Linked DNA regions of Homo sapiens: all the other regions are reported to be linked to region 2. Evidence: microRNA targets listed by miRTarBase, many of them from high-throughput screens and not tested one by one. Region 2 holds a microRNA gene; each other region holds the end of a gene's coding sequence.
What was found. Region 2 holds the annotated microRNA hsa-miR-337-3p (CUCCUAUAUGAUGCCUUUCUUC, at 2,397-2,418, shown strand). A microRNA usually pairs through its seed, bases 2 to 8, with sites in the 3' UTR of a target mRNA and lowers its output. Matches are read on the target gene's strand: a 7mer-m8 pairs with bases 2 to 8, a 7mer-A1 pairs with bases 2 to 7 and ends in A, and an 8mer does both.

Region 1 (7,814 bases), not on the chromosome of region 2:
GAGACCAGCCTGACCAACATGGTGAAACCCCATGTCTACAAAAATACAAAATTGGCCAGGTGTGGTGGCACATGCCTGTAATCCCAGCTACTCAGGAGGGTGAGGCAGGAGAATCACTTGAACTGGGGAGGCAGAGGTTGCAGTGAGCCAAGATTGTGCCACGGCACTCTAGCCTGGGCAACAAGGGCGAAACTCCGTCTCAAAAACAAAAACAAAAACAAAACAAAAACAAGGTTTATGTGTAACCTAAACATGTCTTTTTCTTGCAAAAATGGATGTGAAACTTTTGAATTAGAACTCACTAGCCATACTGAATATCCTAAACTTGATTCATGATCTCAGTTCTCTCTTATCCAAGGTGAGAAGAGGCTCATTAAGAAATGGAAAAGTTGTAAGATACATTGTGAGATTGTTTAGGCATAATCGTATATTGGAAGTCATTTAGGACGCATCTTTAATGAAGACAGATGATGTGCTATTGATGTGAATGTTGTATTTCCCAGCTTGAAGTACTTTCTCACATGACTTTGCATAATTGCTTAGTTGTAGTTTTATGTTGGAAGTGACTTTAGCACGTTTCTAGGGAAGAGATGTTTTGCCACTGAGTGATTTTCCACACTGACATGCTTTTTCAGATGAATCCTAAGATTCACCTTGATTTTATACATTCAAGCCTGAACATTAACCGCTCCCTGGGAACGTGAGTCACCTTTGATTCCTGGGCTTCCTCCAGGACACGAACACTAGGAAGCCAATGTTTCAAGGAGAATTTGACTCAGATTCTTGGCTCTACTGTAGTGTATGTGACTTTTAGACCCTTGCAAGGTTCAAGAGTACTGGGTTTCAAAAGCTATAATGTGACCAAAGTCAGGCTTAAAGCTGCAGAAGCTCATTCCACACCCTGAAAACTTTTCTGAACTCTACATTGAAAGTCTGTTAAAATGTTCCTTAAAACCTTTAAAGGTGGACTTAAGAACAAGAAGTAGAGTTGTGAGCTAAGGCTGGCAGGGTGGGGGAATGGGAGGATGAGACAAATATCAGAAGGATTAGGAAAACCGAGTAGAGGACCTTGAAAATGCTGTTGTCTTTCTTTGCCCCATCCCCTCTCCTCCACCATATTTCTGTCTTTTACCCTTAGGCCTGCACTGCCTGAAAAGAAGGTGGCTGATCTGAGCACTCTGAATGAAGTGGGCTATCAAATCCGAATTTAGCCAAGCCATACCGGCCAGCAAGAGGGTTTCTGTGGTGCTTCTCTCTGCACTTTACCCAGCATCTTCAGGAGGAACTGCAACTATTTATTAAGAACTTGTGAATTTTATTTTTAAGGATTCACCTGGAAATAGAATCTGAGTGGGTGGTAACCATTAGCTTTAAAAAATTCACTAAAAGGCACCATGAAAAGGCTGAAGTAATAAGCCCCACTGGGGTTGGACTATGTCCCTCACTCAAGATCTTAAGGATAACCGTAACTGAAGTTTTATATTTTTCCATTTACCTACTTTCTTTTACTTGCTTTGAACATTATGCCTCACCAATAGTAAATGTTCATGAAATAATCTCTTGAACTTTTGGTATAGTAAGGTAACTCTAACAGTATTACTGTCTTTTTCAGCAATAACAGAAAGCAAAAATGGGTGGGTTTTTTTTAAGCAGTTATTACCTCAGCATTTTGACATCAGATATGCAAACTTAATGGCGTTTTGTTTTTTTATATTCTATTTGTATTCTTTCCCCAGTATTTCCCATGGGGATCTCCACAAGTTTGGAGTTTTTTCCTGGTGCACACACGTGAGGAGATTTAAGGTACTATATGCAAGTGTTTTACTAAAAAGCACTGAAATTCTTCTGGCAATACAAGAACCATTTTCAGGATCTTGGAGTTACTTCCTTCTTAATCTTTCTTAAAGCATTCACTGATGTTTTTGTTTTTTCAAAATGAAACAAAAATATCACATTGAGAAGCTAGTCTATGTTCTGTCACTAACATTTAAACTTTGCAGACTCTAACAAAAAGCACAAGAGGTCACGTACTATTATACAAATTTAGCGGTACTGGATTTACCTCTGACATTAACACACTCAGGCAGAGACCAGGAGTGATCAGCAGGTCTTCAGAACCAAAAAACCTTTCTGTTCACATTTCATCTGATTTTTAAACTGAGGCAGGCTTTGATTCTTCTGAAGGATGCCAAGAATCAAACTAAGGGAGGACTCACTGTTAAAGATGTGTTCTGATGTCTTATATTAAGACCAAATGTGACATGATGTGATTATCTTCCAGTACTTTGCTTTTAGGTACCATTTCATGACATTTTAGGAATGAGTATTGGAAAATATAAAGAATTAGAAAAGCAGCACTTTTTTTTTAATGGAAAAGTCTTCGGTCCAGTGTTACACCTTATAGTGTAATTCAGTCCCTAAGCACAGAATGAATGTCTGGCCTGCATATGGTAGTTACAGTGTAACCTCTGGCTGCAGACCACACAGGACAACCCTAACAGCCTAGTCTTGTATGGTGTAAATATCAAGAGTACAGCTTCAATTTCATTTGCTTTATCTTAGCAACAATGCCAACTCAGGAGAGCAGACGGCCGATTTCAGTGAAGTCTGGTAGTCAACAGATGTTATTTCAGTCTCAGTGCATCTCCTCTGGCTTTCTTTGACTGAAGGTGTTTATAGGAAGGAAGTTAAAAAAAAAAAAAGCTCATTGAGATTCTTTACCAATTCTTTACAAGATTTCTGGGGGTGACAGGGAAAGCAAAAGGACTTCAAAGCAAAAGGGTGCACAAGAGCTTACTTCACCCTGAAAATCAGTATTATTAATGAAAAGTACTGTTTTCTTAAAGAAGTCGAATGTCCTTTAGATGAACAAGACCAAGTATACATCTCCATTAGATTAAAATGTAGCACAGGGTTAAAAATTATCAGTTTAATCTCTTTAAGAACAGTATTATCAGAGTTTAAAATGAGTTAGCTCTGTTTATCTACACACAGCAAACCCATTCGCAGCCTCTTGGCCACATGTATTCAGATGTTTGAAATAGTGAATCATTTCATTTTCATTCTAAAACAATACTGACTTAGCCATATACCTTCTGTTTGTCAATCTGAAACTTGCTTACATCTAATAAGTAGACCTCTTATAACACTGCAACCATTCTAAGAGTTGGAATTTATTTTTGCCAAGTATTAAGTACTGTTACATCTAAAATACAGAATGTCAAATGGTTGCATAGCTTGTTTCCCACAACAAGGAGGAAAAGAACAGGAATACAAACTCTGTAATATGCTGATAAAGAAGCCTTAGAACTGCCAACTGGCTTGATGGTTCAATTAGTAAGCTAATTTCTCCCACACCCGCTCCTTGATTTTTAGACTAATTTTCCCAAAGCAAGGTTTAGTCACACAAACTTGAAAGTACATTTAAAATGTTCTTAGTTGTCATCCTACTTTTATTGCCTATGGAATATGCTAATTTCTAAAAAAAATACGGGAGAGGCACCAAACCCCTAAATTCTAGTGCAATAATTTAAAAAACAAAAAACAAAACAAAACAAAAAACATGTTATATGCACCCCCCTCCCAAAGCTGATTTTAAGACTGGCTAGAATTCAAAATATAAAAAATAAAACTATGAAGTGATTTGAAATCGGTTTTAAAAAGTTGTTAGTGCAAGAGAAATTTTATGTTTAAGCCATCATGGCAATATATGCAAAGTTTAAATGAATGACAGAAATCTTGATTTTAGACTGTATGTTGTGCTGTTTTGAGTACACTTTATTTCGGAGATATTTAGTATTTTCTATACACTCTGAAATCATGAGCATTTCACTTTTTCTAAGTCAATTATTTCATAAGGATTTTATTAATAGATATTGGTAAATAGAACTTTGGAAATCTTAATTCAGAATTCTTACTATACCTGAGTCTTTTGTAAGCTATAGTTTTATGTACAACCTTGTACAGTTTTTTTGACATACAATTCAGAACTTTGTTTATTCTCTTGGACTTTGTTCTGGCCAATACATTTTTTTTAAATCTTTAAGAAGAACTGTGATTGTTTTAGTGGGTATTTTTCTAATTAAATGAAAACTTGTATAATGGTATTTTAGAGAATGCCAGTAAGTGCATGTTTCAAGTTAATGTTTTTCTCATCACTTGTATGTTTCTAACACAGCATGGGACTTTAATAAAACCATCCTGGAAACTTAAGGATTGTTTTTCTTCTAAATATGTAAGATGTGGCCGGGCTCAGTGGCTCAAGCCTGTAATCCCGGCACTATGGGAGGCCAAGGCGGGTGGATCACCTGAGGTCAGGAGTTCGAGACCAGCCTGACCAACATGGTGAAACCCTGTCTCTACTAAAAATACAAAAAATTAGCCGGGCATGGTGGCGGGCGCCTGTAATCCCAGGTATTTGGGAGGCTGAAGCAGAAGAATCGCTTGAACTTGGGAGGCGGAGGTTGCAGTGAGCTGAGATCCCGCCAATGTACTCCAGCCTGGGCAACAGTGCAAGACTCAGTCTCAAAAAAAAAAAAAGTAAGATGGTGTGATTTTTTTTTTTGGTCCTCTTATTATATATTTATTCTACTGAACCTATTTATCGTTCTTTCACCCTTCTTTCACAATCTGCAGACTCTATATTAAAAACACTCTATCACTCTATTTTGACATATCTCAATTCACTCATCTTTTAGCATCACCCCTAAGTAAAAATGGCTGCAAAGGGCAATGAAATAGTTTAGTAAAGGCAACAGTACAGCTTATACATCTCAGTATACCTACCACAAAACCTTCAGGCACAGAAGTACGAGTATAATAGTTTATTACCTAACTTACAGGTACAAAGTGCAAATGACTTGACGCCTCTCTTTCCCCAATCCCTTGAACTCTCTGGATCTCAAACTTTCTTTAGGAAAGCAAAGGTTAAAAGCAGACAGTAACTAAATTCCAAATAAAGACAAGATTTCAAACATGAATATTATCTTGATAGCAAAAGGTACAGTAAAACCAAAATTTCATTACTCCACAGTTTACCTTTCCATTTAAAACTTGGATAGTATAACACTTGAGACTGAGAGATTTGGTTTCAGGCATTAACCAGATTTAATTGTTTTTGGCAGGTAAGTACAGGCTCTGGCAGAGTTACCAACTATTCTGGTCAACAAAAGTAAAGACAAGTGGATAATTATTTTTAGTGGAGCTTTAAAAACCTGTGAGAAGCTCACATTGACTTTTTGGCCTCCAGTCCACAAAATAATACTTCATTTGATAAGCTAAAGTAAAGAGCAATTTTATGGATTAACTCTATCAAAGTGAAGCACATGAAAAATGGGCCTAAAGTCACAATATATTAATCAGGATATAAAAAATTAAATTTTCACAGAGGTTTTCAGGGATGTTTGTTTGTTAACAATGACCTATATGTAATAATGTTATTTGTTAATAAATTCACACAACACAAAGCAGTAATTAACTAATGAATTTTCATTTTTCTTTCCCCAATATTAAAAAGGGATAATTATACTATCATTATAATTTGATAATGTCTATATCTGCTAATTAGGGCACATAATATCCTGCAAACTACTACTATAAAATGTGGGAAATCCTAGAACTATAATTAATACTGTAATTAAAATCCCCCCAAAGGCCAGGCATGGTGGCTCATGCCTGTAATCACAGCACTTTGGGAGCCCGAGGCGGGTGGATCACCCCTGAGGTCAGGAGTTCAAGACCAGCCTGGCCAACATGGCAAAATTCCATCTCTACTAAAAATACAAAAATTAGCTGGGCATGGTGGTGCATGCCTGTAATCCCAGCTACTTGGGAGGCTGAGGAAGGAGAATTGCTTGAACCCAGGAGGCGGAGGTTGCAGTGAGCCGAGTTCGCGCCACTGCACTCCAGCCTGGGCGATAGCGTGAGACACCATCTAAAAAATAAAAAAATAAAAACCCCCCAAAATGAGAAATTAAATATTTAAACATATTCAATTACAATTTTTACTAGACAAATCTTATAATCCACATGCCTTCTCTGAGGTTTTCATCTGTTTGTTTTTTTAAAAATAATTATAGCAAATGCTTTAGTACAAAGACTTAGTCCAAGACTATTATTGTTTTCCAATTTAAGGTGAAGCATTCTATTAATAAAACTCACTGTAAAAACATTTACAATTCAGTGTAAAATTACTACTTAGTAAAAATGCATATAATTCCTTGTTCCTACTGTCTACAAAAAAGGAAATTTCCACTTTTTATGTTTTAAAATTGATTCAAACACTTGTATAGAGGATTTATTAAACCTGCTCATAACCACTTCATAGAAAGTGTCAGCACCATCTCATACTGGTGCATCACGGTAAAAGAAAACATTTTAGAAACAAAACCACTAAAACCAACAGTTTAAATGACTATTTACAGAGCATTAGGTCTCCAAGTTAATATCTCCCCACTAGAGTTTTACAGGCTTCCTCATATTTCTGAGGCTTAACAAAAATAATTTTATAGCTGCCACTTTGTTCCAAAGACAAATTTCCTAATAAAATAAATTTCTATAGAACTGGTTCAGTAAAATAAAATCTCTCCCCTAAACCAGAGATCTTAAAACTGAATTTTTAAAAAATGCTGCCATGTGCAGTGGCTCCCGCCTGTAATCCCAGCACTTTGAGAGCTGAGGTGGGCGGATCACCTGAGGTTGGGAGTTCGAGACCAGCCTAACCAACATGGGGAAACCCTGTCTCTACTGAAAATACAAAATTAGCTGGGAGTGGTGACGCATGCCTGTAATCCCAGCTACTCGAGAGGCTGAGGCAGGAGAATCGCTTGAGCCCGGGAGGCAGGGGTTGCAGTGAGCAAAGATTGCGCCATTGCACCCCCAGCCTGGGCAACAAGAGTGAAACTCCATCTCAAAAAATAAAATAAAATAAAAATAAATAAATAAAAATGCTAGGGAAACAAAGGTATATCCCCAGTCTCTGCCTCTATTAAGCCCACCTCTTGTCTGTTCCAGGGTGAAAGAGTGAGCTTTACACGTTATGCTGGCTTATATTTCCCAAACATTTCCCCAACACGATGCAGGCATATTACATGGCTCAGGACAGTAATAAGATGGATTAAGCATTCTGTACAACTTAAAAAGCATTATCAAACCCCTTCAAAAACAAACTAAACAATGGCTGGTTGGATACCTGTGAATGACCCAAGGCTTTCTAAGATAAACTATTTAGAACTCAATAGAGGGGTCTCCTAATGAAATCAAGCCTTCTGGAAAGGAAACAACTTGTAGTTTGCAAGAACTCAAAGATACTTTGGATCCACTACAGAGCTTGCCAAAATTATGAAATGAAATTTTTTACTAAGCAGACAAAGGAAGATGCATTATATTTAAAAATCACTGTCAATTTTACTAGGATTTAGAATATAAAACCTTTACATCTCTTTTACAATAAAGAGAATTTAGAGCTCACTTGTCACGAAAATATTTTTCATTATTAAAAAAAATTGTTATAAAGTTATTTCTTCTGATATGGAGTTTCAAAGCATCTAACATAACCGCTTCAGAATCTCCACAGTGCAAAAATAAACAACATGCATACACTTAAGAACTTTACATTCTTTGAAAAACAATACAAATTGGAAAGAAAATTAGTATGTGATCAAAGAGAGTCAGAGCTCAAGTCTGAACTTTGCCAATAAAGGCAGATGATCTGAAGAGTTATTTTCGTTTGGAAGTCCATTAACAGTCCATAAGTCTTGTTCTGTAAGAAGTGACAGTCTAGCTAGAAGTTTCAAGCCACCAACCAAAGCAACTTC
Region 2 (8,008 bases):
CTCCTCCACTCATATGTCACATGGAGCCTCCACCCATGTGACACAAATAATTTCTCATCTACTTGTATCACACTGAATGTTCTATCTTTCTTAAGGGTGTCACAGCAAGCCCCACTAATGTGTCACAGGACGCCCCTCTCCCACTCTTGTAGCACACTGAGCTCCTTCCACCACTTAGGTGTCACTCTGACCCTGTCCTCTGCGTGTGTGTCACTAGGAGCCCCACCCATTCAGCTGCACTCTAAGTTCCTCCTCTAATCATGTGTCACACATGTAGTCTCTCCCCACACTCATAAGTCATACAGAATGCCTCTCCCCATCCATGTATCACATTGAGTTTCTCTTCAACATGTGTTACTCAGAGCCCTTCCCTGACTCATGTGTCACCTGGAGCCCCTGTCCCTGTCCATGTGTTACACCGAGTTCTTTCCTGCTCATATGTCACATGAAGCTCCTCCTCTACTCACAAGGCACACAGCACCCCCTGCCCGTTTGTCGAATGGACCCCTCACCTCATGCATGTATAACACTGAGCCGCTCTCCCACCCCGTGTCGTACTGAGCTCCTCCTCCACTGATGTATTGCATGGACTCCTTCTGACACGCGGAGCCCTCCCTGCACCCTTGTGTCTCACTGGGCATCTCTTCCCAACCTTGTGTCCCGTGAGATCTTCCCCCACCCACGTGTCACATCAAGTCCTCTTTCTTGTGTTACTCCAAGTCCCTGCCCCCATATGTCACAGAGAGACTCTTCCCACCCACGTGTCACACCAAGTCGCCTTTCTTGTGTTACTCCAAGTCCCTTCCCCCCATATGTCACACAGAGACTCTCTTCCCACACACGTCACACTGAGCCCCTTTTCTGTCTCACATTCCACCTCTCCTTCACTCATGTGTCATGAGGAGCCTTTTCCCTACTAATGTGTCACCTGAGCTTCTCTCACATGTCACTTGAAGTCCTCCCCTTCCCATGCATCACCCAGAGACCTTCCCCCCACTCATGCATTGCCCTGAGCCCCTCCCTTACTTATGTGACATGGAGCCCCTCTCCACACCCATGTGTCACACCAACCCTCTCTCCACTGATGTGTCACACCAACCCCCTCTCCACCCATGCGTCACATGGAGCTCTTCCCCCACCCGTGTGTCACACCAGCCCCCTCCTCCACCCATGTGTCACACTAACCCCCCCCACCCATGTGTCACACCAGCCCCCTCCTCCACCCATGGGTCACACCAACCCCCTCCTCCACCCATGTGTCCCATGGAGCTCTTCCCCCACCCGTGTGTCACACCAGCCCCCTCCTCCACCCATGTGTTACAGGGAGCCCCTCCTCCCTCCATGTGTCTGTCAATCTGAGCCCCTTTTCCATTCATGTGTCACTCTGAGCCTCTTTCCCACCTCCATACCCTCCTGCCACCCCTACTTCTTAATCTTTAACCCCTTTCCCTAAAGGTTTCCCTCCATGGGCTCTTTCAGAGAATGTTATATTATCAGGTCATTTACTCACAGATATTTTTGCACCACCTACCACGTGCCTGGCTGCGTGTCCCTGTGCATGTGTGTTGGTGGTGTGGATGGCTGGAGAGTGTAGGACGAGGCAGGCAGTATGGTGGTTGAGAAAGATGTCAAAGAACAAAGGAAGGTGTTTTGGGGTACAACTTTATTGAGATGTAATCCACATACACACAATCCGCCCATTAAAGCTCACAGCGAAGTGTGTTTTAGTTATTCACAGATATCTGCAACTATCACCATAATCAATTTAAGATCATTTTCATCACCCCCAAAAGAACTCCAGAGCCTTCAGCTGTCACCTTCACCCTCCATGCACACCCCCCAGCCCTCAGCAACCAAAAATCTACTTTCTGTCTCTGGGAAATTCTTGAAGTGCCCCTGGACTTCATGAGTCCTCACTGGGTCCCCAGAGGTGCCTGTTGCAACCCATTTCACAGATGTAGAAGGCAAGGCTGGAGAAGTACCAGGGAGTCAAAGCAGTGGGTGGGTGGGGTCGAGTCCCCGATGTCCACTCACAGACCTGGGCCAGAATCAGGCCTGTCTCCCCCTTCACCTCCCCATCCTCCGTCCCTTGGCCTGGCTGCACAGTCACCTGGGGGCTCTGTGGGGCTAAGGGAGGCCCAGGCCCTGGCCATAGGAGGCAGGTAGGGCAAGGCTGGGCAGGGTGGACAGGTACCCCAGCGCTGCAGGTGCCCAGCAGTGGGTGGCACTGCCTAGGCTGGCTGTCCCTTGCTGTCACTGCTCTAACCACTAGCAGCAGGCGTCCCCTCTGCCATCCGAGCGCTTGCACTGCGCTTCCGGGAGGAGGGTTGCGGCCCGTAGTCAGTAGTTGGGGGGTGGGAACGGCTTCATACAGGAGTTGATGCACAGTTATCCAGCTCCTATATGATGCCTTTCTTCATCCCCTTCAACCACGCGCAGCCCCCGGACCCTCCTCTGCACCCTTGGCTGCACGGGGACGCGTCCTCAAGTCCGCTGCTGTCCTGCCAGCCTCTTCCCGGCATGCTCCTTGGGCTCTTCTCTCTCTCTTCTGCAGCTCTCTGACTTCCTGGAGGGGAGGGCCTGGGGCTGGGCCATCTCTGAGGCCCCTCCTTGGCAGGGAACTATGCCCCTGGTGGGACACCCCCTGGGCTGACTCCACAGCCAAGGGCAGATAGGCCGGAGGGGGAGTTGGGTAGCCCTGGGGCTTCTCCCACTGAGGGGCTGGGGCTGTGCTCCCACACAGAGCCCTCCAAAGGGACCCGGCCCACAGGATGGATGGACAGACGTTGGAGAGATGGTGCCCCTTTGTGCCCAGGGTGGAGGGGGTGGGGCTTTGGCGGACCAGGGCTGGCCCTTTCTGTGCCCCAAGAGGAGGGTCTCCTCGAGGGGTCTCTGCCTCTACCCAGGACTCTTTCATGACCAGGAGGCTGAGGCCCCTCACAGGCGGCTTCTTACTCTCTCCTTAAACCTGTTCTGGAGACATTTCCCCTCTCCCCAAGGATTCCCAACTCTGGGTCCCCAGAAGCTGTCAGCTGGGCTCCCTTCTTCCCCTGTGCGTACCCTGCTCAGGCTGGGTACCTGAGGGTGCCCAATGGCAACATGAGCAGGGGGCACGGCCGTGGCCCCTGGTTCTTGGACCTCTGTCTTCTGCCTCTCTGACTAACTCAGGTCCTGTGCATGGCAGAGGTGACCCGCACCAAGCCCTGTGATATTGGCATCATTAACCCCATTAACAAGCCACGACAGCCAGCCCAGGCATGAGCATCGGGGCAGCAGGGCAGCCAGTGTGGGGAGAGAGGCCTTGCAGTAGCTGAGGCCATTAGAGAGGACAAGAGGGTGCAGGAGGGAGCATCCTCACCTCTGCCCTTCCCACTTACATCCCATCTCCCCTTCCTCACCCCTCCTTCCCCATGCACCCCTTCTTCCTGTAGGAGGGAGCACCCTCACCTCTGCCCTTCCCACTCACCTCCCATCTTCCCTTTCTCACCCCTCCTCCCCAATGCACCCCCTCCCTTCCTGCAGGAGGGAGCACCCTCTCCCCTGCCCTTCCTTCCCACCTCCCGTCTCCCCTTCCTCACCCCCGCTTCCCCCATGCACCCGCTCCCTTCCTGGTCTACCCCTCAGCTTCTGTGGTGTCAGGATGGGTATGCTTGTCTTTGTTGATCTCAGACAGGTGGACAGGGGTCTGGACGAGGCTTACTGTTTGGGTCTGAGGTCAGTGCTCATGGGCTTGGGGCATGACAAGGGTCTTGTCGTCCCCGCAGCAGGGCTCTGAGCGGGTGGGTGGAGCTTGGGAGTGGGGGTGATGGCTTCTATTTGTTGTCTTTCTCTTTTTCACTTTGGGAGCAACCGGGGTCACCAGGTGGGCAGGAGGGGACCTCACGTCTCTGCCCTGGGCAGATTGTTAAGAGCTGGTCAAGCTCCTGGCACGGGGGCCTGAGTCCAAGGCCCTAACTGGACCTGGGGCCGCCTGCAGGAGGGATGAGCGAGTCCGGACCCGAGCGGTGAGTAGCCCTCAGCTGCCTGGGTGGTGTGCTGTTGAGTGTTCCAGAAACTGGCCCTGTGTGCACCAGGGCTGGAGGCTGGCACGTTGGGCATCTCATGGGGGTGGGCTGGGTCGGGAAGGGAGGTTGATGGACAAGACTCAGCAGGAGTGGAGCTCAGGGCTCCCTCCATCCCCTGACATCAGTGACCTGGGGGTGGACAGAGAAGGTGGAAGATGGGTGCATTTAGTTGTGGCCCGCCAGGTCCCGTGGGCCTGTGTGCCAGTGTCCGCGCCAGGCTGTGCTGTCTGCTGTTCAGAGGAGTTTTCACCTTTTTTTGTGGTGGCCATGATGTCATAACCCAGCATGACATTTAACATTAACCTTCCTTTTTCTTTCCCCAGGAGAAAAAAAGGTTTGTATTATTTTTCTTTTGAATTTTTTATTTCCATAGGTTTTGGGGAACAGGTGGTGTTTGGTTACATGAGTAAGTTCCTTGGTGGTGATTTGTGAGATTCTCGTGCACCCATCACCTGAGCAGTACACACTGAACCCAGTTTGTACTTTTATCCCTCACCCCCTCCCACCCTTTTCCTGGAGTCCCCAGAGTCCGTTGTATCACTTTATCAGTAGTTCTCCTCTGGGCCTGGGGGCTGCCGCTCTTCTCTGTAAACTAAACCTGCTGTGGCTGGATGGGGCAGGGGAGCCAAGGAGGCGAGGTCCTCACTGTCTGCTGGTGTGGGGGGCCGTGGCCACTCTAGCACCGGGAGCCCCCAGTCAATATGTGTGTGTGTGTGTGAACTGTGGATAAATACGCTTACCTTAGCGCGTGTCTGGATTCCCCCACTGTGGGGCACGGGTGATTACTGCTGGTAAATTCTCTGTTTGGCCTTACCCTGCAAGGTAGTCCTGTTCATCCCTCCACCTTTTTTTTTTTTTTTTCTTGAGACGGAGTTTCACTCTTGTTGCACAGGCTGGAGTGCAGTGGCGCGATCTCAGCTCATCGCAACCTCCGCCTCCCAGGTTCAAACGATTCTCTGCCTCAGCCTCCTGAGTAGCTGGGATTATAGGCATGCGCCACCATACCCAGCTAATTTTTTGTTATTTAGTAGAGACGGGGTTTCTCCATGTTGGTCAGGCTGGTCTCGAGCTCCTGATCTCAGGTGATCCATCTGCCTCGGCCTCCCAAAGTGTTGGGATTACAGGCGTGAGCCACTGCACCCGGCCTTGCCCCTCCATCTTTGATGGCCAGGAGGAAAGGATGGCGGTCGTCGACGGTCCTGGCTGCAGGGACACGGGGACTGCCAATCCACCCCACATTTACCCAAGGAGCCCTTACCAAGCAGGGACAGAGATTTGCCATTAAAATCCAGCCTCTGGGACCCCCCAGGGGTGGCCTTCAGGAGACCTGATCTAGGGACCCTCCATTATGACCCCAGGCTCTATCCCAAGGTAGTTTACTTCAAGGGACTTGGGAGCCCCAAGAAGAATGTCATCTGGGAACAGAGGGGGTTTTAGGAGCCAGCGGCCCTTGGAGACTGGGTCTGGTTATTCTGGAAATGACCCTCCCTCTCACTACATCCCCCATTTGATGATGGGAAAACAGGCTGGAAGATGGACAGCCACTACCTGAGGTCACCCAGCAAGTCAAAGTTGGGGCCTTCTGGGGCCAGGTCACTAAAGGGGATCTGCACCTCTTGCAGCTGAGCCCCTGGCCTTAACCCATGGCAGCCTGTCTTGGGCTGCCATCAGAGGCAGAGTGCTAGGTGAACGGACAGACAGACATGGTGCCCTTGAGCTCCTGGAGCTGCTGTGATGTTGGTTGTTGTGGAGGTCATTGCTGGGCCTTGTGACTGGAGGCAGAGTGGGTGAAGTGGCCCAGGTGAGAGGACAAAGATCAGCCACCAGGAAGGGGCCTCCATCCTGGCTCTGTCCTCAGCTCCTCTGCAGCCGGTTCTGGGCCTTGATTTCCCCAAGTTTACCTTGGGAAATTGACATGAGAAGTCTGTGGATGGGGCTGGGAGCTCTGAGTGCCAGCTGTGCCCAGCAGTTTATTCCTAACTCTGAATCCTCACAGCAGCCTTGGTGGGTTGGAGTGACAGATGAGGAAACTGAGGCTGGGAGAGGCCTTCCTGCAGCCAGCCAGTGGAGGGAGAGAGAAGCCCAGAGGTGTAGCCCCTGCCTTTGAACCTGGAGATCCTGACCATGATCTCCTGGTGCTGCTATCAGGGGTAGATTCTTCAGACAGGTGGATGGTGGGTGAAGGCCAGGCACCCCTGGGGACTTGTGAGGGCATCGTGAGCCCTGTGTGGGGCTGGGCAGTGCAGGGAAGGAAGGAGGCTGAGCTTGCAGTGCCAGCCTTGGGCTCCCGTGGGGTGTGTCCTTGGTCAGGGGCTCCCCACTGTGTGCCCAGTGGTCCTGGTCCACGATGGGTAGGAGCAGGAGGCAGAGCCACACTGTCTGGAGGCTGTCATGCTCCCGTGCCTCCCCTCGAGGACACAGTAGGGTCTCTTCCATGTGGGAGCTGAGAACTCTGGGGCCAGGTGGAAATGGCTTTCCTAGGGGATGGGGTGGCTCCAACTCAGGCTAGTCAGACCCCTGCGGGGCCCCTGAGCTTTGAGCCTGAGATCTGTTGGGTGGTCTCACGGTGTGTCTTCAGGAGCAGGTTCCTCAGCAGGGCAGAGAGGGCAGAGCTGGTGTGTCCTGGCATGGGGGCCCGTGTGCACAGAGCTCCAGTGTTTTTGCCCTCCTAGATGAAGTTCAAGGTCATGCTGAGAGAGGCCCACGGCTCCTTCCCCTCTGTGTCCTCGCAGAGCTCTCACCTGTGGAGGGGTGCAGTGGGGCGGGGGTGCTCTGGGAGGTTGGAGGCCACTCCTGGATAGGTGTGACCCATGGCCAGGAAGAGGGGTCAGCATGTCCTGGACTGTGGAGGGGGAACTCAGAGTGGGTGAGTGCCACCTGCCCTACCTCCCCAACTCCCTGTGGGACCCCTGGCAGCTCCCCTACCCAGGGCAGTGCACCCTCACCCTCACAACAGCCATTTTGCCACTTTGGGGACAGCATGACCCTCTGAAATGGGACCCAGGACTTTTCCTCTCGGAGTGGGGGTTAGGGACTGCTTGAGACCAGGGCTTGTGGACCCTGCAGTGTGGGGCTCAGACCGCACCTCGTTAATCACATGGCGAGGAGGCCAAGGCCAGAGGTGGGAACTGGGTTTCGGGGCTCCCTTTTCTGGAACCCTTAGGAGAGACAGCCCCCACTCCCCCGCCTCCCACTGCCCTAAGGCACCTCTTCTGTCCTCTCTTTGACATGAGCCTGTGGGGGGTGCACGTCCCTGGTGGCCTCAGTGGGGGTGGGTGCCTTCTCATGGCAGAAAGAAGTGCCCAGAGTCTTGGTGGGGACGCCTTCAGGAAGGTTGGGGGAGGCCTGCTGCCCATGTGCCAGGCCCCCAGGGGCTGTTTCAGGGCAGAGCGTTTCCTGCCCCCACCCTTCCTGCCCAGTCCACTTGCCCCCTCGTCCACCCCACCTACTCCCTCCCTCCTCCCATGCGTGTCCCCTCCCCCGCCTATCCTCCCACCACCTCCACTTTTAGAACAAACCCCAAAGTCAGACAGTCTTTTAGTTTGCTTTATTTGAGGAGTGCAAAAAGATTGGGGGGTGAGAAAGCTCGGGGGGTGGGGAAGGGTCTACTCCCCTTGCAAAGCGGTGGTGTGGCCAGAGCCTCTCTGTGACTCGGCATGGTCCCCTGGGTGTCTGTGTGCCTTCTGGGACTCCATCCCTGTATGAGGGGCCCCTGCACCCCTGCACTGTCCAGTGTTCAGTGTTGGGAGGGAAAGGCGCCCCAAGGCATGCAGGGGCCCTCTTTGCTGTGCAAGTCTGGTAAGTGGCACTGGTACGTCCGGATGCCCCAAAGAGCGGCTTTGTCCAGGTAAGTCCAGAGCTCAGGGCAAGAGGAAGGCGGGGTCAAAAAAGCTGAAGCAGATGTGGTGGGGGTGGGGGTGGGTTTGCTTGCAGGGTGTGATGGG
Region 3 (8,008 bases), not on the chromosome of region 2:
TAATAATTTATCTCAACTCTCAATGTGCAACTCCTGATAGAAGCAAAGACACACCCCAGAGTAACCAGATTCGAGGTCATTAGAGTGGAGGATGTATGATGCAATATGGCCCCCTCCACCCTCCTACTCACTTCTACACATCTGGGACGCTCATCCCCTGCCCACCACCTTGTCTTCTCTTTCTCCTACTTTTCCCAGAACTCTCCCGCCATTGTTCCCAAGTTCTTTATCTTGAGTGGGGTTTTAACATTTCCCCACTGCCCCTCCTCTGCAGCAGTGCTGTGCTTTCTCTGAACAAGGCTGAAAACATACCTCAGGACTTAATTTTCCTTCCCCATTCCTTGACCAAGGCTGGGGTGATTCACATTTGTCCTTCCACATGCCCCTCTTATGTGTTTCTTTTTTCCATGGAACCAGTAGTTTTCAGCGAAGGCTGAACTACTCTACAATGCTCTAGGACTTTTCAGGGGATTTTGTAGGGAGGTACAGGGAGGATTCGAAGCTGAGAGTGGCAAGAATATCCAAGAGCCACATGGGTTTTCCCATCTGGGAAGCTGAAGCAAAATCTTTATTTCATTTCTCCTCAGGGATGAGGATGACGCTCCTCTGTGTGAAGACGTGGAGCTACAAGACGGAGATCTGTCCCCCGAAGAAAAAATATTTTTGAGAGAATTTCCCAGATTGAAAGAAGATCTGAAAGGGAACATTGACAAGCTCCGTGCCCTCGCAGACGATATTGACAAAACCCACAAGAAATTCACCAAGGCTAACATGGTGGCCACCTCTACTGCTGTCATCTCTGGAGTGATGAGCCTCCTGGGTTTAGCCCTTGCCCCAGCAACAGGAGGAGGAAGCCTGCTGCTCTCCACCGCTGGTCAAGGTTTGGCAACAGCAGCTGGGGTCACCAGCATCGTGAGTGGTACGTTGGAACGCTCCAAAAATAAAGAAGCCCAAGCACGGGCGGAAGACATACTGCCCACCTACGACCAAGAGGACAGGGAGGATGAGGAAGAGAAGGCAGACTATGTCACAGCTGCTGGAAAGATTATCTATAATCTTAGAAACACCTTGAAGTATGCCAAGAAAAACGTCCGTGCATTTTGGAAACTCAGAGCCAACCCACGCTTGGCCAATGCTACCAAGCGTCTTCTGACCACTGGCCAAGTCTCCTCCCGGAGCCGCGTGCAGGTGCAAAAGGCCTTTGCGGGAACAACACTGGCGATGACCAAAAATGCTCGCGTGCTGGGAGGTGTGATGTCCGCCTTCTCCCTTGGCTATGACTTGGCCACTCTCTCAAAGGAATGGAAGCACCTGAAGGAAGGAGCAAGGACAAAGTTTGCGGAAGAGTTGAGAGCCAAGGCCTTGGAGCTGGAGAGGAAACTCACAGAACTCACCCAGCTCTACAAGAGCTTGCAGCAGAAAGTGAGGTCAAGGGCCAGAGGGGTGGGGAAGGATTTAACTGGGACCTGCGAAACCGAGGCTTACTGGAAGGAGTTAAGGGAGCATGTGTGGATGTGGCTGTGGCTGTGTGTGTGTCTGTGTGTCTGTGTGTATGTACAGTTTACATGAATGTTCCTCAGGACATGGCATACAATGGCCTTGGAGGTCCAAATAATATCAAGTACATCTTGGAGATGAGGGTGCCTGTCCTGGACAGACCTCGGCATGCCTTCTGTTTCTCCTTCAATGCTCCTTAAGGCCTATGTGCTGGGAAAAGGGTCTTCCCTGTTTGTTTGTTTGTTTGTTTGTTTGTTTGTTTTGAGACAGGGTCTCTGTTGCCCAGGCTGGAGTGCAGTGGCGTAATCTCGGCTCACTGCAACCTCTGCCTCCTGAGTGCAAGCAAGTCTCCTGCCTCAGCCTCCCAAGTAGCTGGGATTACAGGCACGCACCACCACGCCCAGCTAATTTTGGTATTTTTTTGTAGAGACAGGGTTTCACCATTTTGGCCAGGCTGGTCTCGAATTCCTGACCTCAAGTGATCCACCCACCTTGGCCTCCCAAAATGCTGGGATTACAAGCGTGAGCTACCCTGCCCAGCCGGGTCTTCCCAGTTTTAACAAAGAGGTCACAGAGCCACAGGCGGAGTTAGGAACTAAATTGTCTCCTCCTCCCAATTCATATGTTGAAGTCCTAAACCAAAATGTGGCTGTATTTAGAGATGGACCCTTTGGGAGGTAATTAGGGTTGACTGAGGCCATAGGGTGAGGTCCTAACCCGATGGAATTGACTTCTTTATAAGAGGAGGAGGAAATACAAGAGGGCCTCCCCACCCCTGCTGCACACCTACACTGAAGGAAGGCTATTTGCAGATGCAGCAAGAAGGCAGCCATCTGCAAGGCAGAAGAAGAGAGCCCTCACCAGGAACTGAATAAGTCAGTCAGTCTGGGACTTCCAGCCTCTAGAACTGTGAAACAATAAATTTCTGTGGTGTAAGCAACTCAATCTATAGTAGTTTGTTACTATTTTGTTATAGCAACCAAAGATGACTAAGCCAGACAGGTTATGTCACTCGCCAAGTGTCTTAGTCTGTTTGTGCTGCTATAACAAAATACCTTAGACTGGGTAATTTACAAACAACAGAGATGTATCCAGAGATCCACAGTTCTGGAGGCTGAGAAGTCTAAAATCAAGGCACCAGCAGATTCCACATCTCGTGAAGGCTCACTCTCTGCTTCACAGATGGCACTGTCTTGCTGTGTTCTCACATGGCAGAAGGGGCAAACAAGCCCCCCTGGGCCTCTTTTATAAAGGCACTAACTCTATGCCTAAAGGCAGGGCCCTCATGACTCTATCACCTACCAAAAGGCTCCACTTCTTTATACTATTGGAGGGGTAGAAGGAACTTCCTTTCTAGACCTTGAAGGTTTAAGAATTTGAATCTATAAAACAAGCTGACAATAGACAGATTAACAGGAGAAAAAGCATATACATTTTTTAATGTGGGCCAGATGGCAGAAGCTTAAATAACACCCCAAGCTACAGGAAGTGAGGCCTCTGATGGGGAGGTAGTGACACAGGCTGTGGGAGGGGGTAGGGGGAGGAAGTCTGTGGTGAGCAAAGTTTGCCTTATTACACTGATAAAGTGTAATTACACTAATAAAGCTGGATCACCTGAGGTTAGGAGTTTGAGAACAGCCTGGCCAACATGGCAAAACCCTGTCTCTACTATAAATACAAAAATTAGCCAGGTGTAGTGGCAGGGCACTTGTAATCCTATCTACTCGGGAGGCTGAGGCAGGAGAATCGCTTGAACCCAGGCTGTAAAGGTTGCAGTGAGCCAAGATCATGCCACTGCACTCCAGTCTGGGTGTCAGAATGAGACCCCATCTCAAAAAAAAAAAAAAAAAAAAAAAAGAAGAAGAATACAGTCATGTATCTCTTGGTGACAGGGACGCATTCTGATAAATGTGTCATTAGGCAATTGCATTGTAGTGTGATTATCACAGATTGTACTTATACAAAACTTAGATGGCATAGCCTACTGCATACCTAGGCTATATGGGAGAGCCTATTGCTCCCAGGCTACGCACCTGTACAGCATGTGACTACTGAATACTATAGGCAATTGCAGCACAATGGGAAATATTTGTGTATCTAAACATATGTAAACAGAGAAAAAGGAAAGTAAAAATATGGCATAAAAGATAAGAATTGGCTCTCCTGTACAGGGCACTTACTACGAATGGAGCTTGCAGGGCTGAGAGTTGCTCCAGATGAGTCAGTGAGTGGTGAATGAATGTGAAGGCCTAGGGCATTACTGTATACTACTGTAGGCTTTATAAACACAGCACACTTAGGGTACACAAAATGCATATTAAAACATTTTCTTCCTTCAGTATATTAGGCAATAGGAATTTTTCAAGTCCACTATAAATCTTATCAAACCATGGTTGTATATGCAGTTGACCGAAACATTGTTATTGGACACATAACTATAGTTGAAAGAATAAGCAAAAAGTCTATCTAGGTGTGCTGTCTTGAGCAACTTTTAATTATTCTCCTGTCCTGCAATATGAGTTAATCTTCTCTGATCGATGTAGATTCCAGGAAGGGGTGTCCAGGACAATTACCTTCCTTCTGGAGAAACTTCCCTTAATCAAATAAGAGAACTTCAAAGAAAATCCCTCCCTGTGCTTTGGAAGGGAAGGGAGGTGGGCAGCAGTGGGTCAGAGATAGACCTTTGTTCTCTTATTTCTGAGGCCCTTCAGTCTCCTTTATTCAAAGCACTCAGCATGCCAAAGCACCCTATTTTAGGGTATCTTTTTCTGAGCCCTAAACACTGTGTTGGGGATGTCAACTGTGACAGGAAAATATCTTGGGGCCCCAGAATCACTAAGGAAAACTCAAGCTTAGGGAAACTTCTTAGGGCAAACCCACCTCCCACTCTATTCAAAGTTATCTCTCTGCTCACTGAGATAGATACATATCTGATTGCCTCCTTTGGAAAGGCTAATCAGAAACTCAAAAGAATGCAACTGTTTGTGTCTCACCTATCTGTGACCTGGAAGCTCCCTCCCCACTGAACCAATGTTCTTCTTACATATATTGATTAATGTCTTATGTCTCCCTAAAATGTATAAAACCAAGGTATGCCCCAACCATCTTGGCCACATGTCATCAGGACTTCCTGAGTCTGTGTCACAGTGTGTCCTCAACCTTGGCAAAATAAACTTTCTAAATTAACTGAGACCTGTCTCGGATTTTCTGGGTTCACATTTTGGAAACCATGAATGGATTCTGGGTGGAGATGCCCCTGACCCTTGACAAATCTATCGGTGCTTGGTACCAGCATGAGCTAACTTTATGGCTCAAACCAATAGGACAATTTGCTGAGGTCTGAGAGGACTCCCTCCAGAAAATCCCTGATCTCTTAAAATTTGGTAGAGATCGGAAGTTTATTTTGCTGTACAACACCTCTTTTTTTGGAGTTTTACTTGCTCCCAACAAGGAAGGCAAGTTTTCCTGCTTTCATGATGATGGAAGGCAGGTGATGTTTTTATGGAGTTTCAGCTTTCTTCCAATGCACTTAGAGCACTCAGAAATTGTATAATTTGTGTGACCATTGTTAGTTTTGCTTAACTGTTTTGTTGTTTGTTTCTGTCTTAGTCAAATCTGAAGGGGAACCCTAAATTACGGGGTCAAGGACTCTGAAGTGGTAGGAAAACAGCCAGCTTAAAAAACTTTTTTTAAATTTTAATTACTATAGGGGCTTTATTTACATAACACAGCCAGCTTTTTGCTAGCCAGACCAAACTCAAAGAGCAATGGCTGTACTTCTGAAATAGCAACACTTTGTCCTAGCTGAGATTTGGTAATAAGATTTTTTTTTTAAGTTTTTAAAGAAGCTCAGTGGTTGAAAGTCTGCTTAACTGAAACAGTAACATCCATGATGTGTGTTTTGTGCATGTTTGTATTTGAAAGGCCTTCATGTTTTTGTTTCTTGTTTGTTTTTCTCTCCTAAGACCTTGTCTTTTTTTTGTAGCAAAAGTTTTTTTTTTTTTTTTCCTTTTACTTCTCAGTTGACTGAATTCTGTTTTCACCGGATTTTTTGACTAAAATAGCTATTGCAACAGAGGCTACTCTTGGGTTAAGGAAGAATGTAGTTTCGTTTTATGTTTAATATCGCTCAAAGAAAAATAAAAGCATCTCCCTCTAACACCACCAGACTTTTCCTCTCTGTACCTTATCATGTAAATTTTGCTATTTGATTTTCACCTGGGTTGTTTCCTTTAATGTGCAAAAATTTAAGGCTATTTAGCTGACAACTGCCTAGGGTTGTAAAACAGGTTATCAAGAATCTGAAAGTCTAAGATAGGAAAAAAAAGTGGGGGGGCATTATAAATCTATAAAATGTACTTCTATTGGCATGCCTAATACGTCTTTATATGTATGTATGTGTTGTGTACACGATGTTTTAGTGCTAAAAATATGTAAAAGAGCTCTACTTGGCTTAAAGAAAAATAAAAGTGCTTAAATCAGATACTAAAAAAGAAAAGGCTAGTCAAATGCTTTTTCAAATTTATGTAACTTAAGTAAAATCTTTAATAAATAAAGTAGCTTTAAAATTATTGGTAAAGTAGTATTAGAAATGTCTTAAGAATTGCCAGCATACATTTTTGTTTGCATTATATTAATCAAACAGTTTTATACTTATCCCTGCCAAATACCAGAAGGTGTCAAAATTTGGCATAGGGGTTATAAAACTATAAACCCAGCCCAAAACAGAATGATCTTTGCTTGTGTAATTTTTAATAAATAAGACATTGATATGGGTTTAATGAAAACAGCTGCATCTTGAATTTAGTAAGATTACCATAACTTCTAATCCTGTGGCTTTAGGCAGTTTAGTCCACAGACAATAAGGAGGTTTGTTTTGGGAAAGGACTGTTATTGTCATTGTTTCGAAGCTGAACTTAAACTAGGTTCCTCCCAAAGTTCATTCGGCCTATGCCCAGGAATGAACAAGGACAGCTTGGAAGTTAAGAGCAAGGTGGAGTCAGTTAGGTCAAATCGTTTTTCACTGTCTCAGTTGTAATTTTGCAATGGAAGTTTCATAACTTTAAATCATGACTATCACAGTTTTTATAAATAATCTAGGTAAACAATTAATAAAATAACTAGGTAAATGTAATGGGATAAATACTTATAGACCAACTGGACATAATTTAGAATATAAAGTCATATTAAATTAAATAATAGATAATTTATTATTTGGGTATTTTCCAATAAATATATCTTGTAGGAAAACATTGTTGCTTAAAAAAAAGTGTGTCCTTTTTTAAAAAAATGGTGAACAAGTTTTGTCTAATTCAAAGCTTATTAAAAGGTTATATATAAAACAAGGTAAAAGGAACCAGAAAAGAAAAAAAATGTAAATAAAGTTATAAAAATAAAGAATTTTTTCAAGGTTAAAAAGCTGAAAAAGAAATAATTTTATATAAGAAAGAATTTTATATGGTAAATTTAGTCCTAAAATAAAATAACTGGTTGTTTAACAAGGAGGGATGTTCAGGACAAACCAGAAAGTCCAAGCATGTCATGAACATTGGTGTAAGTCATGATAAGATTTTATATATATATATACACACACACACACACACCCCAAAAGCTTTTATATAATCAAGTTGTCATATTATTATTAAGTTTTGGTTTGCTTAGGGAAGAAAGAGCTAATTTTTAAAAAATCAAGGTTATTACATCCATGTATCTTCCTGTGTATGCTTTTAAAGTCCTTGTAACATTGAGTTACAGGGCTTTAACTCCTGTGTCTGAAAAATCACAAACACTGATGACAATCAAAGCCTCATCTTAAGGCCCCGTAGAAGATGCCAATCAAAATAAACTGCATTCCTGAGGCACTAGGCAAGAAATTAAAGCTATTCAACTCCTCAAGGCCCAGGGACTATTGCGGAAGAGGTGGGCGCGTAAGATTGTAAGGGCCGATTTTGAAAGATCCAGTAAGTTCAGTTTCTCTATGAACTAATCATTCAAGTCAAAGGCACACTGATGCAAAATCAGTATATGGACCCCTGTGTCTGATTAGCAAGGTTTTCTTGAAGCATTAACCAACTCCTTCATAAAGGTTATAAAAGGCTTATGGAAGTTATATTTTATAATCAAGATTAAATCTTATAGTTTGTTTACAAAATTTTGAAAATCAAATGTGATTGGCTTCAGGCTGTTTTTATTAGGGCTTCTTGTTTAGAAAGTTAAGTCACCTCTCTCAAAGAATGAAGGTTTTTGCTTTTTTTGAAATCCTTGAATTATCACTTGGATTAAATAAATGACTTTACGATGACCTGTAATTTTATTTTGTAATGTCAAGTGTTTTAAACCTTTTGTATTTGACAAGCTTTCCAAAATCAAATTATAAATTATGTATTTTTCTAACCTAATTAATCCTTTAAGATCTTAGTTTCCCTAAAGTCCTAAAATGACATAATTTGGCTTATTTGGTATAAAAATTATATAGGAAGCATTGTCAAATGTGAAATGGTGTTTGGTTTTC

Region 1: miRTarBase lists VASH2 as a target of hsa-miR-337-3p. Seed matches in the 3' UTR shown: 8mer at 2,675-2,682.
Region 3: the mRNA of APOL6 is a reported target of hsa-miR-337-3p. Seed matches in the 3' UTR shown: 7mer-A1 at 3,848-3,854, 7mer-A1 at 5,812-5,818 and 8mer at 7,968-7,975.

The regions. Positions count from the first base shown.
Region 1 is chr1:212,987,374-212,995,187 of GRCh38, forward strand. VASH2 (vasohibin 2) reads left to right here. Exons shown (of 8, transcript NM_001301056.2): 8 at 1,139-4,212. The coding sequence ends at 1,211. ANGEL2 (angel homolog 2) reads right to left here. Exons shown (of 9, transcript NM_144567.5): 9 at 4,809-7,814. The coding sequence ends at 7,668. Among named protein-coding and RNA genes, the nearest start is that of ANGEL2, 25 kb to the right of the region's middle.
Region 2 is chr14:100,872,157-100,880,164 of GRCh38, forward strand. MIR337 (microRNA 337) reads left to right here and starts at 2,337; the gene lies at 2,337-2,429. MIR665 (microRNA 665) reads left to right here and starts at 2,877; the gene lies at 2,877-2,948. RTL1 (retrotransposon Gag like 1) reads right to left here. Exons shown (of 4, transcript NM_001134888.3): 4 at 7,597-8,008. RefSeq lists an enhancer at 1,516-1,685 and a silencer at 5,039-5,249.
Region 3 is chr22:35,658,028-35,666,035 of GRCh38, forward strand. It overlaps APOL6 (apolipoprotein L6), which reads left to right. Exons shown (of 3, transcript NM_030641.4): 3 at 588-8,008. The coding sequence ends at 1,569. Among named protein-coding and RNA genes, the nearest start is that of APOL6, 14 kb to the left of the region's middle. RefSeq lists an enhancer at 2,822-2,931.